Homo sapiens: one gene and its partners. The protein of the gene in region 4 purifies or fractionates together with the protein of the main gene of each other region. This does not show direct contact. Each region holds a gene or a part of one and is shown on either strand. Other genes may lie near its edges.

Region 1 (3,500 bases), on a different chromosome or scaffold from region 4:
CAAAGAAGCAAATACAATAAAAAACATTTCCCTATCACCTCAAATCATTAAATGAAAGAGAATACCAATCTGAGATATGATAAAGTTTAAATATCTTAGTAGAAAGTGCCATTTTCATCTACCTATAGGAGACTCCTATGAAAGAATGTATATTTTTGTATGTCTCTAGAATATTTATGTTTGTCTTTCGCGCAATCTAATAAAAAGAAAATAGGTATCTACCTAAATGACACTAAGTATAGTAATTTTAGGAAACAGGTAGATAAACTATATTGATATCTCACTTGCCAAAGATCTGAACTTTAGCATTAGATTACTAACCTTCTAACCTTTTTACATAAATATACAAACTGTTTGTATGACTACATAGAGGAAAAGGATGGACAAAACACAACATAACTTATTTCACCAGAACTCTGTAGTTCCTAAAATCTACGTATAAAACCAACACAAAAATGAGTCAATGAATGCCCTCCAAGAATCTAAAATATGTTTACATTTACAAGCCTAGAAATTATTTTATGGAAATGTTTTCTAAATGTATATTCATAAACCTCTAAAACCAGGTATTTATATAAAAGAACATTATGTACAGAAGGGGTGTCTTCATACCTTTTAACAATTTCTACCACCCTTAAAAACTTAAGGTGGAAAAAAAAAATTTAACACAAGTCACTCCTAAATTATCATATCAAAATGAAAAATGTCTCCCTAAAAAGCAATGTTACACACTTATACCAATCAGTTATACTTAATAATTTATTCAAAAAGGAGTAATTCTACGTATTATTGCTCCAACAAAACCATAATTACAATAATCATCCATGATAATTATATATAACATTTATTTATCAGCTTTGTAGCACATTTTTATATTAAAAATTTTGAATTATTTATTTAAAACAGTAATTTAATCTACTGACATAAAGATAATACTGATTTTAAAAAATAGGAAGCTAAAGCATCTCAAAACCTGTTAAAATTAAGCATTAGAAAAAATAATTAGAAACCAAAAACATTCAGTGATGACTTCAAGATCTAACGACAAATTAATTTTTCTACAATCTCTCTTCTTCCAGCTGTATTATGGGAGAATATAATTAAGAAAGATGTGTGGAATAATAAATGGATTCATTATTACTAAAATTTGTTTTCTCAACAGGAAAGTCTTATGTACATTAAGACTAGGGAAATCTGAGATCATGTATTTCCTTAACATTTACTATTTAAAACAATTCCCTTACTATTAAAACCATTTCCACACGTCAGTAACCATCTCTGATCACAGTTGAAATGAATAGATATGCCAACCCCAAGATTGTCAAATTTGCAATTGTTACTTTCTAAAACCATGGAAAGATTCTTCAAAGGGTAAACAAAAAAAATCAGGCATTTTAACATGTAGATACAAACTGGACTATCACTATAATTTTATCACTCCATAATATTAACAGAGAAGAAAAAAAAACACACTTACCAGATGGAGACATATATTCTGCATTTGCCCTACAAACTACTTTGATAGGCAAGTTACACATTTGCAAAAAGGCCTGTAAATCAAGATACATACAATAAGCCCAGTAAAAAGCATATGCATATTTGAACAGAAATTTGTATGCATTTCTTTTCTAAACTGAATAGTTTCATACTACAAAACTCTAATAGAAAACAATGAACCAATTTAAAGTGAAGGATTTGTTTTCCAAACAAAAATGTCATGTCACTACTTAAAAATCAGTATGATTTAGACATCAGTAAATACATGAAACTTAAAGTATGTATGTATACCTAAGGAATAAAATGTAAATTATCCACATTTATGTTACTGTATTAGTTTATGTAAACCAGCAATACTATATATATAGCTTTAATTTTCTTAAGTAGATGACTAAAGTCCAAATTTTATAAGCTATTAATTGCTTCATTCCACTATTTTCTATAGGATCATCATCTTCCTCATTTTAGAGGAAAACTCAAAATACTATCTCTGCTACCTCAAAGTTCTCTCCAGTAATACCCTATATTCCAACATGTAGTTTCTGTGCTCACGAATTCACTTTTTAAAGACTTAAATTGTTTATCTTTGCTCATAGTTACAAAAATGTTATAAGCAATTTAAATGTCTAATAATAAGGGTATGGGGTAAATCATTATAGTAAATCCAAACTATGGAATGCTATACACAATCAATTTTAAAACTCATGCTTTAGAAAAAATTTTACATCAAGAAAAAATGTACACATTATAATATTAAGTAAAAAAATGCAAAACTCTATTACTAGATCACACTAATTCATTTTTAAATGTTTTTAAGACACCAGTGAACTCTGCCAAACCCACTGTTTTTTACAATACTCAAAGTCCACTCCCCTTGTTCTCTCTTCTATGACTTCTTGGCTTCTTTTTCTCTATTCACAAAATTTACTATGTTATTTCTATAAAATAATTCAGTTATTCAATTGGGGAGGTCATAAGTTACAATGGTTCTAATTACCACATACAAATTGGAAGACAAACCTTTTGTCTATTTTGAAATTGAAAGTACTATAAATAGCTGTCAAAAGTAAGATAAGATAAATTAATAAATTAACAAGGATATTATTTATCATTTTACTCAACAGAGATTTCTCATAGGTTTATTATAATTCCTTCCTCAACTCTACATTAGAAATAAGTGTTAAGACTCTTAAGTGTTAAGGGTACAAAACAGTGATTAATATCTTGTACAAAGAACTCCATTTACCCAAAAGTATGTCAATTCTCTTCTGTTTTCTCAAAACTCCAGTCCTTTAGAGATGCCTGCCTCCAAAAATAAATCCCACGTGAGTCTGATTCCCCCACTAATTGCATCCTCTGATTCTTACATTGCTCTGTAACTTATGTATGCATGTCTGATCTCCTCAAGTAAATGGCATCTCTTAGAAAAGCAAGGGGGAGATTTTTAATTTTTTTTTTCAATTCTGTTCTCCTTCCCCCAATCTCCCTCATTTTCCCACAATTCATCTTTCATAGTGCACTACTTATAATAAGCAATATTGTTTACTGATTGAGCCATTCAAAGCTCCCAAGAGCTTATCCTGGTAGAGGCTGTTATCCCTGCCACATATGTTCTCTCCTTTCCCTACAGTGGTAGAAACTATCTGCACACAAGGCTGCCTAAAATAAAAACTTATTTTCCGGGCTCCCTTACAACTGGGTATGGCCAACTGGACTAAAAGTTCTGGACAACTGCTGGGAAGTTTCTTTAAAAGGAGAAAGTATCTCCTCTTTTTCCTCCCTGTTGACTAGAATGTAAAAAGGATGGCTATAGCTATAGCAGCCAAACAGAACCATGAAGTAGCAGCTGAGTGTTAGAAATGGTAGAGCAACAAGAGTAAAGGGGCCCAGGTTCTTGATAATCATGTAGTCACCAAACCTGGATTACCCGTGTTTGTCCGAGAAGTGAACTACCTTTTTAAGCTACCACTATATTGGGTTTCTGTCACTCACTGCCAAATCCA
Region 2 (3,500 bases), on a different chromosome or scaffold from region 4:
TTATCCCAAATTTTTTAAATGATTAAACATTTGAGAATCTGTCAGAGCCAGATAGATTACATTCTAGGTGTGTTACATAGTTTTTCTTTAGTTTAACAGTTTTCTTAAAAGAAAATTCATCCACATGCATTTTTAAGGTGCAGTAACATATAGCCAGTTTACAGCTCTTTTCTTGCTAGTGTACACTAGCAAATATATGTTCCAATTACGCATAAATAATTTAAATGATCTCTGGAGCCTCTTGCAACTATCCCCTTGTCTTGTGTTGCTACTAAAAGGAAAAACGTATTGATTTAACCTTTGGTATTATCAGGAAAAATAGTCATTGTCATTTACTATCATTTTATTTTTTGTATTTTTGGTCATTTTATGAATAGTCCTGAGAAGCAGCAATAAAGGGATAGTGGAAAAACAACTTTATTAGAAATTATAATAAAAATAAAAACATAGCAAACCCAAATTTTTATTCCATATATTCTTGAAATAGGGAGGCCTCAAGCAATCCTCCTGCCTTGGCCTCCCAAAGTGTTGAGATTTGATGTGAGCCAACATGCCAGGCCCAATATTCTTTTTTTATGGCTAAATTCCATTGTGTATATAGACCACATCTTCTTTATCCATTCATCCATTGATGGTTGATTCCATATTTTAGCTATTGTGAATAGTGCTGTAATAAACGTGTGAGTGCAGATATCTCTTCAATGTATTGATTTCCCTTTTGGATATATACGTAGTAGTAGAATTGCTAGATCATACAGTAGTTGTATTTTAAGTTTTCTGAGGAACCTCCATACTGTATTCCATAGTGACTGTACTAATTTACATTCCCACCAACAGTGTAGCAGGGTTCCCCTTTCTCCACATCCTTGCCACCATCCATTATTCTCTATCTTTTTAATAAAAGCCATTTTAGGCCGCCCATGGTGACTGAGGTGAGAGGATCACTTGAGCTGCTCAGGAGTTTAAAACTAGCGTGGGCAACGTAGTGAGACCTCGTCTCTAGTATAATAAAAAAAATTTTTTTTAAGCCATTTTGACTGGGGTAAGATGATAGCTCATTGTGGTTTTGATTTGCATTTCTATGATGATTAGTGATGTTGAACATTTTTTTAATTTACCTGTTGGCCATTAGTATGCCTTATTTTGAGAAATGTCTATTCTTTTGCCCATTTTTAAATAAGATTATTTTTCTTTTATTGAGTTGTTTGAGCTCCTTATATATTCTGGTTACTAATCCCTTGTCAGATGGATAGTTTGCAGACATTTTCTCCTGTTCTGTGGGTTGTCCCTTCACTTTGTTGATTGTTCACTCAGCTGTGAAGAAGCTTTTTAGCTTGATATAATCTAATTTGTCTACGTTTGCTTTGGTTGTCAGTGCTTTTGTGGTCTTACACAGAAAAGTTTTTGGCCAGGCCAAGAGTTGTGCCTCATGCCTATAATCCCAGCACTTTGGGAGGCTGAGGCAGAGGATTGCTTGACCCCAGGAGTTTCAGACCAGTCTGGGCAACATAGGGAGACCCTACTTTTGCAAAAAGAATTTTAAAAGTTTAAAAATTAAAATAAAATTAAAGAAAAAAGTTTAAAACATTAAAAGTTTAAAAATAAAGTTAAATGAATAAATAAAATTAGCTGGATGTGGTAGCACACACCTGTGATCCCAGCTACTCAGGAGCCTGAGGTGGGAGGATTGCTTGAGCTCAGGAGGTCAAGGGTATAGAAAGCTGTGATTACACCACTGCATTCAAAGCCAGGTAACAGAGTGAGACCCTGTCTCCAAAAACAAAAAAACAAAATAAAACAACTTTTGGCCAGGCCAATGTCCTGGAGTATTTCCCAAATACATTTTTCTAGTAGTTTCATAATTTCAGATCTTACATTTAAGTTTCTAATCCATTTTGATTTGATTTTTGTATCAAAAATCAAAGAGATAAGGAAGAAATATCTGAGAGATAGTCTTATTCTTCTGCATGTGGTTATCCAGTTTTCCCAGCACCATTTATTGAAGAGACTATCCTTTTACCATGATGTGTTCTTGATTGCTTTGTCAAAAATTACTTGGTTGTAAATGTGTGGATTTATATCTGGGTTCTCTATTCTGTTCCATTTGTCCATGTGTCTATTTTCTTGCCAGTATTATGGTCATTTGGTTACTATAGCTTTGTAGTATATTTTGAAGTCAGATAGTGTGATGCCCCAAGCTTTGTTCTTTTCCCCTAGGACTGCTTTGGCTATTCAGAGTCTTTTTGTGGTTCTATATACGTTTTAGGATTCTTTTTCTATTTCTGTGAAGAATGTCACTGGTATTTTGATAGAGATTGCATTGAATCTGAAAATTGTTTTGGGTAGTATTGTCGTTTTAACAATATTCTTCTAATTCCACAAGCTTAGAATATCTTTCCTTTTATTTGTGTCTTCAATTTTCTTCATCAGTGTTTTATAGTTTTCTTTTACAGATCTTTCACTTAAGATAATTGCTTCGTATTTTATATTATTTGTAACTATTGTAAATGTTATGCTCTAACAGCAAACAACATGAAAAATAAATCAAGAAAGCAATCTAAATAAAAAAAAGTCTGTACTGACTTTTGTATGTTAATTTTGTATCCTGACACTTTACTGAATTTGTTTATCAGTTCTTAACAGCTTTTGGTGGAGTCTTTAGGGGTTTTGTAAATATAAGATTATGTTGCCTACAAAGATAACTTGACTCCTTCCTTTGCAATTTAGATGCCCTTTATTTCTTTCTCTTGTCTGATTGCTGTGACCAGGGCTTTCAGTATTATATTAGATAACAGTGGTGAAGGTGGGCATCCTTGTCTTGTTCCAGATCTTAGAGGAAAGGCTTTCAATATTTCACCATTCAGTGTGATGTTAGCTGTGGTTTTATCACATGTGGCCTTTATTATTTGGGAACATGTTCCTGCTGTATCCAGTTTGCTGAGGGTTTTTATCATAAAGAGATGTTGAATTTGTCAAATACTTTTTCAGCATCTATTGAAATGGTCATATGTTTTTGGTTCTTGATTCTGTTAATGTGATGTATCATGTTTATTGATTTGAATATGTTGAACTATCCTTGCGTCCCTTGGATGAATCCCACTTGATCATGATGAAGGATCTTATTAATGTGATTTGCTAGTATTTTGTTGAGAATTTTTGCATCTGTATTCATCAGTAATATTGGCCTGTAGTTTTCTTTTTTGTTGTGTCCTTATTTGGTTTTGATATCAAGGTAATGCTGGCCTTGTAGAATGAGTTTGGAAGTATTCCCTCTTTAATTTTTTGTTTTGTTTTGTTTTGGAAGAGTTTGAGTAGAAGTGAGAATTAGTTATTCTTGAAATGTTGGGTAGAATTCAGCAGTGAAGCCATCAGGTTCCAGGCTTTTCTTTGATGAAAGACTTTTTATTGCAGCTTCCATCTTATTACTTACTGGTCTGTTCAGGTTTTCAGTTTATTCATGTTTCAATCTTGGTAGGTTGTAAGTGTCCAGGAATTTATTA
Region 3 (3,500 bases), on a different chromosome or scaffold from region 4:
CTCGGCTCACTGCAACTTCCGCCTCCCAGGTTCAAGTGATTCTCCTGCCTCACCCTCCTGAGTAGCTGGGATTACAGGTGCCCACCACCACGCCTGGCTAATTTTCGTACTTTTAGTAGAGACAGGGTTTCGCCATGTTGGCCAGTTTGGTCTTGCACTCCTGACCTCAAGTGATCCACCCACCTTGGTCTCCCAAAGTGCTGAGATTACAGGTGTGAGCCATTGCACCTGGCCTTTTTTCCAATAGTCTTGAATGGATGTCAAATTAGAGAATTGCAAGCCACTGAGGCTGACTTTGCATGGGCTATTCGGCCATTGGAGAAGAGTACAAAGCTGGATTTCCATTTTGCTCAGGGCCCTAGAGCTCGTGTGTGTGCTTTCTCTTCAACTCCTGTCCTTTTTGTCTTCTTCACAGATGGCAGAAGATTTTCAAGTCCCGGCTGGTGGAGTTGTTAGTGTCCTATGGCAACACCTTCTTTGTGGTTCTCATTGTCATCCTTGTGCTGTTGGTCATCGGTGAGTGAGCTATGGCTGAGGGCAGCTACCTGACCTAGACCCTGGTCTCTGCTGCAAAACCCTTTGCCACTTTTGATGTGTAGCATCCAGTTTTGGCTGCTAGGAGACAGACCAATGAAATGCTGTGTCTTTCTCTTGAGGGAGGGAAGAGGCTCCCTTTGCCCATGCTGCTGACCGCTAGTCGGTTCTTCACTTTGAGGCCCCTCTAGGCCGTACATGGTGGCTCATGCCTGTAATCCCAGCACTTTGGGAGGCTGAGGTCGGTGGATCACCTGAGATGAGGAGTTCGAGATCAGCCTGGCCAACGTGGTGAAACCCCATCTCTACGAAAAATACAAAATTAGCTGGGCGTGGTGGCGGGCACCTGTAATCCCAGCTACTTGGGAGACTGAGGCAGGAGAATTGCTTGAACCCACGAGGCAGAGGTTGCAGTGAGCCTAAATCGCACCATTGCACTCCAGCCTGGGCAACAAGAGGGAGACTCCATCTCAAAAAAAAAAAAAAGAGGCCCCTCTAGCAGTGGGCGTGGGCTTATACCAAGCAGTTTGTATGCAGCTTATGACGGCCACCTTACATTGCTTTTTTTCAAGACCTTGGAAGGAGGGACGCCTAAGGTTTCTGAGGCTGCTCCTCAGGTCACTCTAGAACTGAAGCCAAGAGAAGCTAACTGGCCTGTGACCTTGGTCTGAGTAGTGCTGCTCACCAGTCACTTAAACAGCAGAATTGCCTGGAGCAGGGCCTCTAATGGGGGACTGAGCAACCAAGCACACAGTGAAGTCCTGCCATTCCCTGTAGTAGTAGGAGGAGAACACAGAGATGTGTGGCAGCATATCTTGGGGAGAGATCCTAGACCTCTCTGCATCTGGGCTAGACTTGAGGTTTTCCCAGGTCGTTCCAGCTCTGTAGTTCTGTAAACTCTGACATTGAGGTGTACACTAGCAGGTGCTTGAAAGATAAACTGGTCCAAGGGCAAGCAGGCTCTGGGATAAGGCCAGGCCAGGTGGTGGTAAGATGAAAGGCAGACATTTTGCAATGAGGTGGTAGGGTGACCATCTGGAGACAAGAATCAATAAAGCTCTTGTCTGACTGGTAGATGTTTGTTGTTTTGCTGTGGTAAGTGATCGATATGTCCCCCTGTTTGGGCTCCAAAGTATTGGCTTGGCTCTGCTGTGGACACCACTCTTGTCTCAGAGCTGTGGTGCCTGCCTAGGCGTGGAACACTCCTCCCACCGAGTCCCAGCAGAAACACTGAGCGGGTGGGGGGCTGTGGTTCAGGGGAATGTGCAAAGCCTCACCCACCAGCTTCAGCATTAGGCATTTCTCCTTCCTGATGTCTCAGAGCCTGATAGGATATGTTCAGGCTGGACTGCCTCTGAACAGGCCAAGTGTTACCTGACAGCTTCCAACCACATAGGGTAGGTGCCAGCTGCCTGAGCACCTCAGTGTTCTTGAAATACTTGGCAAGGCCCCAAGAGGTAGTAGCTCTTTCTAACCAGGGTTCTCGCCCTGAGCAGCCTCCAAGCCAGGAGTAGGTAGGTAATATATGTGTCATCCCCAGGCCACTGAGTTTTTGAACTGAGCATGTGTGTTTTGGCTTTTGGGTCTGGGGTGGGGGTAATAACTGGGGAGGGGAGGGACCATGCTGAGGATGATTCCCTCAGGGTCTTGCCCCTTCCCCAAACCAGAAGGAGTATGTTTCTTTCCTAGAGCAGCTGAGTGGGCTGGAGAGATCCTTTGCGGAATCCAGTAGTTGACAAAGCCTTCATTCTTTTTTGGGATCGGGGAACTGCTTGGAAGTTCTAGGGGGACATATGGCCATGATGACTGGCTGCTTCCTACTCCCATGTTAAGAAGCATAATCTAGAAAGATCTGCAGAGCCTTCTTCAAACAGAAGTGTTAGTCACAGGTACTAGTGAAGGGTAAGGGGCATAACTAGCTAGAGCTGTGGCCTTGCTTGGGGGTGGGGAGGGTTGAGCAGATCCTCCTGGAGGATGGAGTTGCTGAGGGTGCAGGATCTTCCCACCTGGGCTGAGGCCCGAGACAGGGAGGGCTGGTTTCTACTGTGGGACTTGGGTTAGTATTGCTCAGTCCCCCATCCCCACTATTGGTCATTGGCCAAGGTGGTCCTTAGGATGGTGGGGTTCCTGGATGCAGGTGACAGTGTAAGGAAACATGTTTATCTTGTTTTTCTGATTACAAAAATAATGGGTAATTATTCTTAAAAATTCAAAAGTTGAATTTAGAAAGTTAAACTCCCCATAATCCCATTTCCCACAGGTAACCATCATGAGTATTTTGTTGTGCATTTCCAGAGGGGTTTTGTATGCTGACATCTTTAATAAAATGTCTACAACGGTGGGATCATACACACAAAGTATTTATGTTTCTTTCCACATTCCTGCTGGGACATGGCAGGAGGAGCATTCCACGCCTGAGCTGGTAGCACAGCTCTGAGATAAGACTGCTGTCCATAGCAGAGCCTAGCCAATACTTTGGATTGTGCTTTTTCTACCTGCTGCACGTTAGACATCTTTTTTTTTTTTTTTTTTTTTTGAGATGGAATCTCACTTTGTTGCCCAGACTGCAGTGCAGTGGCGCCATCTTGGCTCACTGCAACCTCCGCCTCCCAGGTTCAAGCGATTTCCCCTGCCTCAGCTTCCGAGTAGCTGCAGGTTACAGGCGCCCGCCACCATGCCCGGCTAATTTTTTGTATTTTTAGTAGAGACGAGGTTTCACCGTGTTGGCCAGGCTGGTCTTGAACTCCTGGCCTCAAGTGATCCGCCCACCTCGGCCTCCCAAAGTGCTGAAATTACAGGCATGAGCCACTGTGTCCGGCCAACATCTTTTTATAGCAATCTCATTCTTCTTAAAGATCATGTAGTATTCTCTCATGTGGTTGTGCCGTAATCCATTCTTTATAAGCATCTTCGAATCATTGCAAATTTATGCAAATACTTCTGTGGGATAATTTCAGAGGTGAATT
Region 4 (3,500 bases):
TTTCTATCAAGTGCTCATTGTCCAATTCTTTCCATTCCCCAAGCCATTTCCCCATTTTTGGGTATTTGCTATGGTAGTACCCCACTTCCTGGTACTAAAACCTCACACATGATAATGACAGCCCCACACTGCTCAGGTTTGTGATGGAGAGAAGCAGGGAGTCTGCAGGAACCTGGGGCAGGCCCCTAACAGCCTGGGAGATCAAGGAGGGCTTCCCAGTGGAGGTGACATTTGACCAGGCCTTGAAAGATGGGTAGGAGTTGGCAGGCGAGAGGCAGGCATTCTGAGCCAGGTGGAGGGCCAGGTGAGAAGTCTCCATCCCCCCAAAAGTTGTCCCCTTGGAGCCTGCAGGTGTTGATGGAGTGGATCAATGCCACTCTTCTCCCCGAGCACATTGTGGTCCGCAGCCTGGAGGAGGACATGTTCGACGGGCTCATCCTACACCACCTATTCCGTAAGTGGCTGTTTCTGGGGCTGCCTGGGCCTCGGCCCCATCCCCCTGACCTGGCCCCTCCAGGGCCCACAGGTAGGCTCTCTCCTTCAGTCCCCACAATGGTCCCGGGTTTAGGGACACCTGTCTCACTTTCTAGATGGGCCTGGGCTGGGGAGATGGAGGCGCTGTCCACAGCCCATGAGTGAGGGGGCCGAGCTGGGGCTCAGGGTGGGGCTCTGACGCCAGGGTTGGTGCTCTTTCTACCACACCACACTGCCTCTCTAACACTTATTGAGTGCCTGCTGTTTTGAGGTGCTGGGAGGTAACAAAAGAACCCATGATCCCTGCCCTCGGGCTGCCCTAGGCTGCTAGAGAGAAAACGGGCAGTCCTGGGTGGCTGGGGGCAGGGCTGGGCTCCTGTCTCCGTGTTCCTCCTCAGTCTGGAAAGCTCCAAGGGGCTTTGCAGGGGATGTGCATTCTCAGGGCCTCCTCCTGGTCCCGGGCAAGTGTTCCCCACAAGCCCCAGAGTCACCCTCTCCTTTGTCCTTGTATGGTCATGTCTGGTCTACGCATCTCTTCTGCACACAACTGTGGTCTCGGAGGCCACAGATAGGCCCAATTCCATGTCCTCAGCACTTCGCCTGAGGCCAGCCTCTGCAGTGTTCGCCGAGCTCTTTGGAGATGGGCTGCACAATCCCACTCATGCGGCTAGCACTTCCGGGCATGTCCCATGTAGCAGGTGCAGTTCATCCTCAGAATAGCCCTGTGCTGTTACTGTCCCCATTTCACAGATGAGGAAAGGGAGCCTCTGAGAGGCCTCATAATTTCTCCAAGGTCTTATGGTTAGGGAAGCAGGGGGGTCAGGATAGAAGCCTAGGAGTGTAGGCTTTAACCACTAGGCCACACTGCCCTGCAGAGATGAAGTGGACACAGCTGTGCAGAAGGGCAGGGGCTGCAGGCACAGGCTGATCAAGGTGAGGTGGGCTCTCTCAACCAGCTCAGGGGGCTGAGGCTTGCTCACATCATGTGGCCTGCATGGCCCACCAATCCTGTTCTGTGTAGATGAGGGTCTCCTGGAAGCTGGAGGGCATACCCGATTGAGGCTGTGAGTGTGGCCCACGGTCCAACACCAAGAATGGGCTCTCCAGACCCATGTTCCCTGAAGCACCAGGCAGGCTCAGCCTCCTGGAGGGTCCCTGAGGTGCTCTCTGGTCTGTCCCCGGCCAGGGGTCCTCACCACCCTCTCCTGCCTCCAGAGAGGCTGGCGGCGCTCAAGCTGGAAGCAGAGGACATCGCCCTGACAGCCACAAGCCAGAAGCACAAGCTCACAGTGGTGCTGGAGGCCGTGAACCGGAGTCTGCAGCTGGAGGAGTGGCAGGCCAAGTGGAGCGTGGAGAGTACGTGGGCCACAACCTGGCTACCCCTGGGGAGTGTGGGGCCGCTGGGGTCCTTCTGCTTCAGGCTTCTCACCCACCAGGAAGGCGCACTCATCCTTCTCCCAGCAGGGGTACAACCTGGGAGTCAGGAAGGAGGTAGAAGCCTCAGGCAGCCACAGTCAGGCATCTGGCTGAGCAGCCAACAGCCCAGCACACATCTGTGCCCTAGAGGGTGTTACTGCTGCAAAGTGCAGCCCAAGGATAGCAAACAGTCTCTGTTTGCTATCTGAATGACAGCCACTGTTGAGTTCCAAGTACCGTGGTCCGCCCATCCACACTCTCATTTCATTAAAGTATTGGAATATCTGCAGGGCCTGCTTATACAAAAAATGAGTGTGCCTGGTCGGGTGTGGTGTCTCACACCTGTAATCCCAGCACTTTGGGAGGCCGAGGCGGGTGGATCACCTGAGGTCAGGAGTTTGAGACCAGCCTGGTCAACATGGTGAAACCCCATCTCTACTAAAAATACAAAAATTAGCTGGGCGTGGTGGCCGGTGCCTGTAATCCCAGCTACTCAGGAGGCTGAGGCAGGAGAATCGCTTGAACCTGGGAGGCAGAGGTTGCAGTGAGCCCAGATTGCACCACTTCACTCCAGTCTGGGCTACAAGAGTGAGACTCCTTATCAAAGAAACACAAAAACCAAGAGAGCGTGCCAAACACCTAGACTTCCCCACCCCACCTGGTTCACAGTTTGGTATAGATTTCCTTCCCTTCAATTCTCCATATCCCCCCACCCCACCCAGATGAGAAAACTGAGGCTGAAAGAAATTATGCAGCTTCTCCAAGGTTGGGCGGTGAGGATTTAACAGAGTCCGTTTTCAAACCCAGGTTTTGTTGGGTCCCATGCGCCTGCATTCGCAGCCTGTAAGGTCTCACAATCAGTAATTGATGTTGATGAAATCAACCCTGAATTAAGTCACATGCAGCTGAAATCTAATGATCGTTCAGCCAGTGCCTTCCCAGAGGTCACTTGGTTGTTTCCGATTGTAAACAGTGCTGCAGTAAACATCTTTGTGTCTAGAGCCCCTTCCACAAGGTAGATCATACCCCTGGGCTATATTCTAAGAAGTGAGATGATGGGGTGAAGTGTGATGATTTTTAGGTTCTGAACACGTATCTCCAGATCTCTGCTCTCCAGAAGGCTGGACACAGACCTCCTTGGTCTGCAGATGGTTGTTCTGACAGTGAGGAAGCCTCCATTTGGCTGCACGTTTTGGCGGCCTCCTGGGCTCTGACCTGTCTCCACTCTCTTCCCAGGCATCTTCAACAAGGACCTGTTGTCTACCCTGCACCTCCTTGTGGCCCTGGCCAAGCGCTTCCAGCCCGACCTCTCCCTCCCAACCAACGTCCAGGTGGAGGTCATCACTATCGAGGTAGCAGCCTGGGCCCCAGGGATTTGTAAGCAGAAGCTGAGCCTCTTGGGCCCCCATTGCCGTACCCTGCATGGGTGGAGCTGGCTGGGGCGGGGCTGACCCAGGGTGAGTTTCAGGGAACCCTGAGAAATAGAATCCAGCCAGGATGGCCAGGGGGTGCTGTCTGGAGCTGGGGACGGGCTGGTAAGGGTCTAGTGGGGCTGGCGGAGGCCTGGGGGCATGAGGAGGTCCACGGCTGGCCAGCTCCACTTGACCTCA

What was found.
Region 1: the proteins of PARVG (region 4) and MTX2 purify together in Homo sapiens (affinity purification with mass spectrometry; one large-scale study listed by BioGRID and IntAct). This does not show direct contact.
Region 2: the proteins of PARVG (region 4) and POLK purify together in Homo sapiens (affinity purification with mass spectrometry; 3 studies listed by BioGRID and IntAct, with this or other methods). This does not show direct contact.
Region 3: the proteins of PARVG (region 4) and BCAP31 purify together in Homo sapiens (co-immunoprecipitation; one large-scale study listed by IntAct). This does not show direct contact.

Annotation. Positions count from the first base shown.
Region 1 is NC_000002.12:176,321,442-176,324,941, reverse strand, and holds part of MTX2 (metaxin-2), read right to left. Parts: intron 1,551-3,500; coding exon 1,478-1,550; intron 1-1,477. UniProt on the Homo sapiens protein: Involved in transport of proteins into the mitochondrion.
Region 2 is NC_000005.10:75,514,891-75,518,390, forward strand, and holds part of POLK (DNA polymerase kappa), read left to right. Parts: intron 1-3,500. UniProt on the Homo sapiens protein: DNA polymerase specifically involved in DNA repair. Plays an important role in translesion synthesis, where the normal high-fidelity DNA polymerases cannot proceed and DNA synthesis stalls.
Region 3 is NC_000023.11:153,717,888-153,721,387, reverse strand, and holds part of BCAP31 (B-cell receptor-associated protein 31), read left to right. Parts: intron 1-415; coding exon 416-516; intron 517-3,500. UniProt on the Homo sapiens protein: Functions as a chaperone protein. Is one of the most abundant endoplasmic reticulum (ER) proteins.
Region 4 is NC_000022.11:44,187,425-44,190,924, forward strand, and holds part of PARVG (gamma-parvin), read left to right. Parts: intron 1-351; coding exon 352-454; intron 455-1,689; coding exon 1,690-1,830; intron 1,831-3,126; coding exon 3,127-3,242; intron 3,243-3,500. UniProt on the Homo sapiens protein: Plays a role with ILK in promoting the cell adhesion and spreading of leukocytes.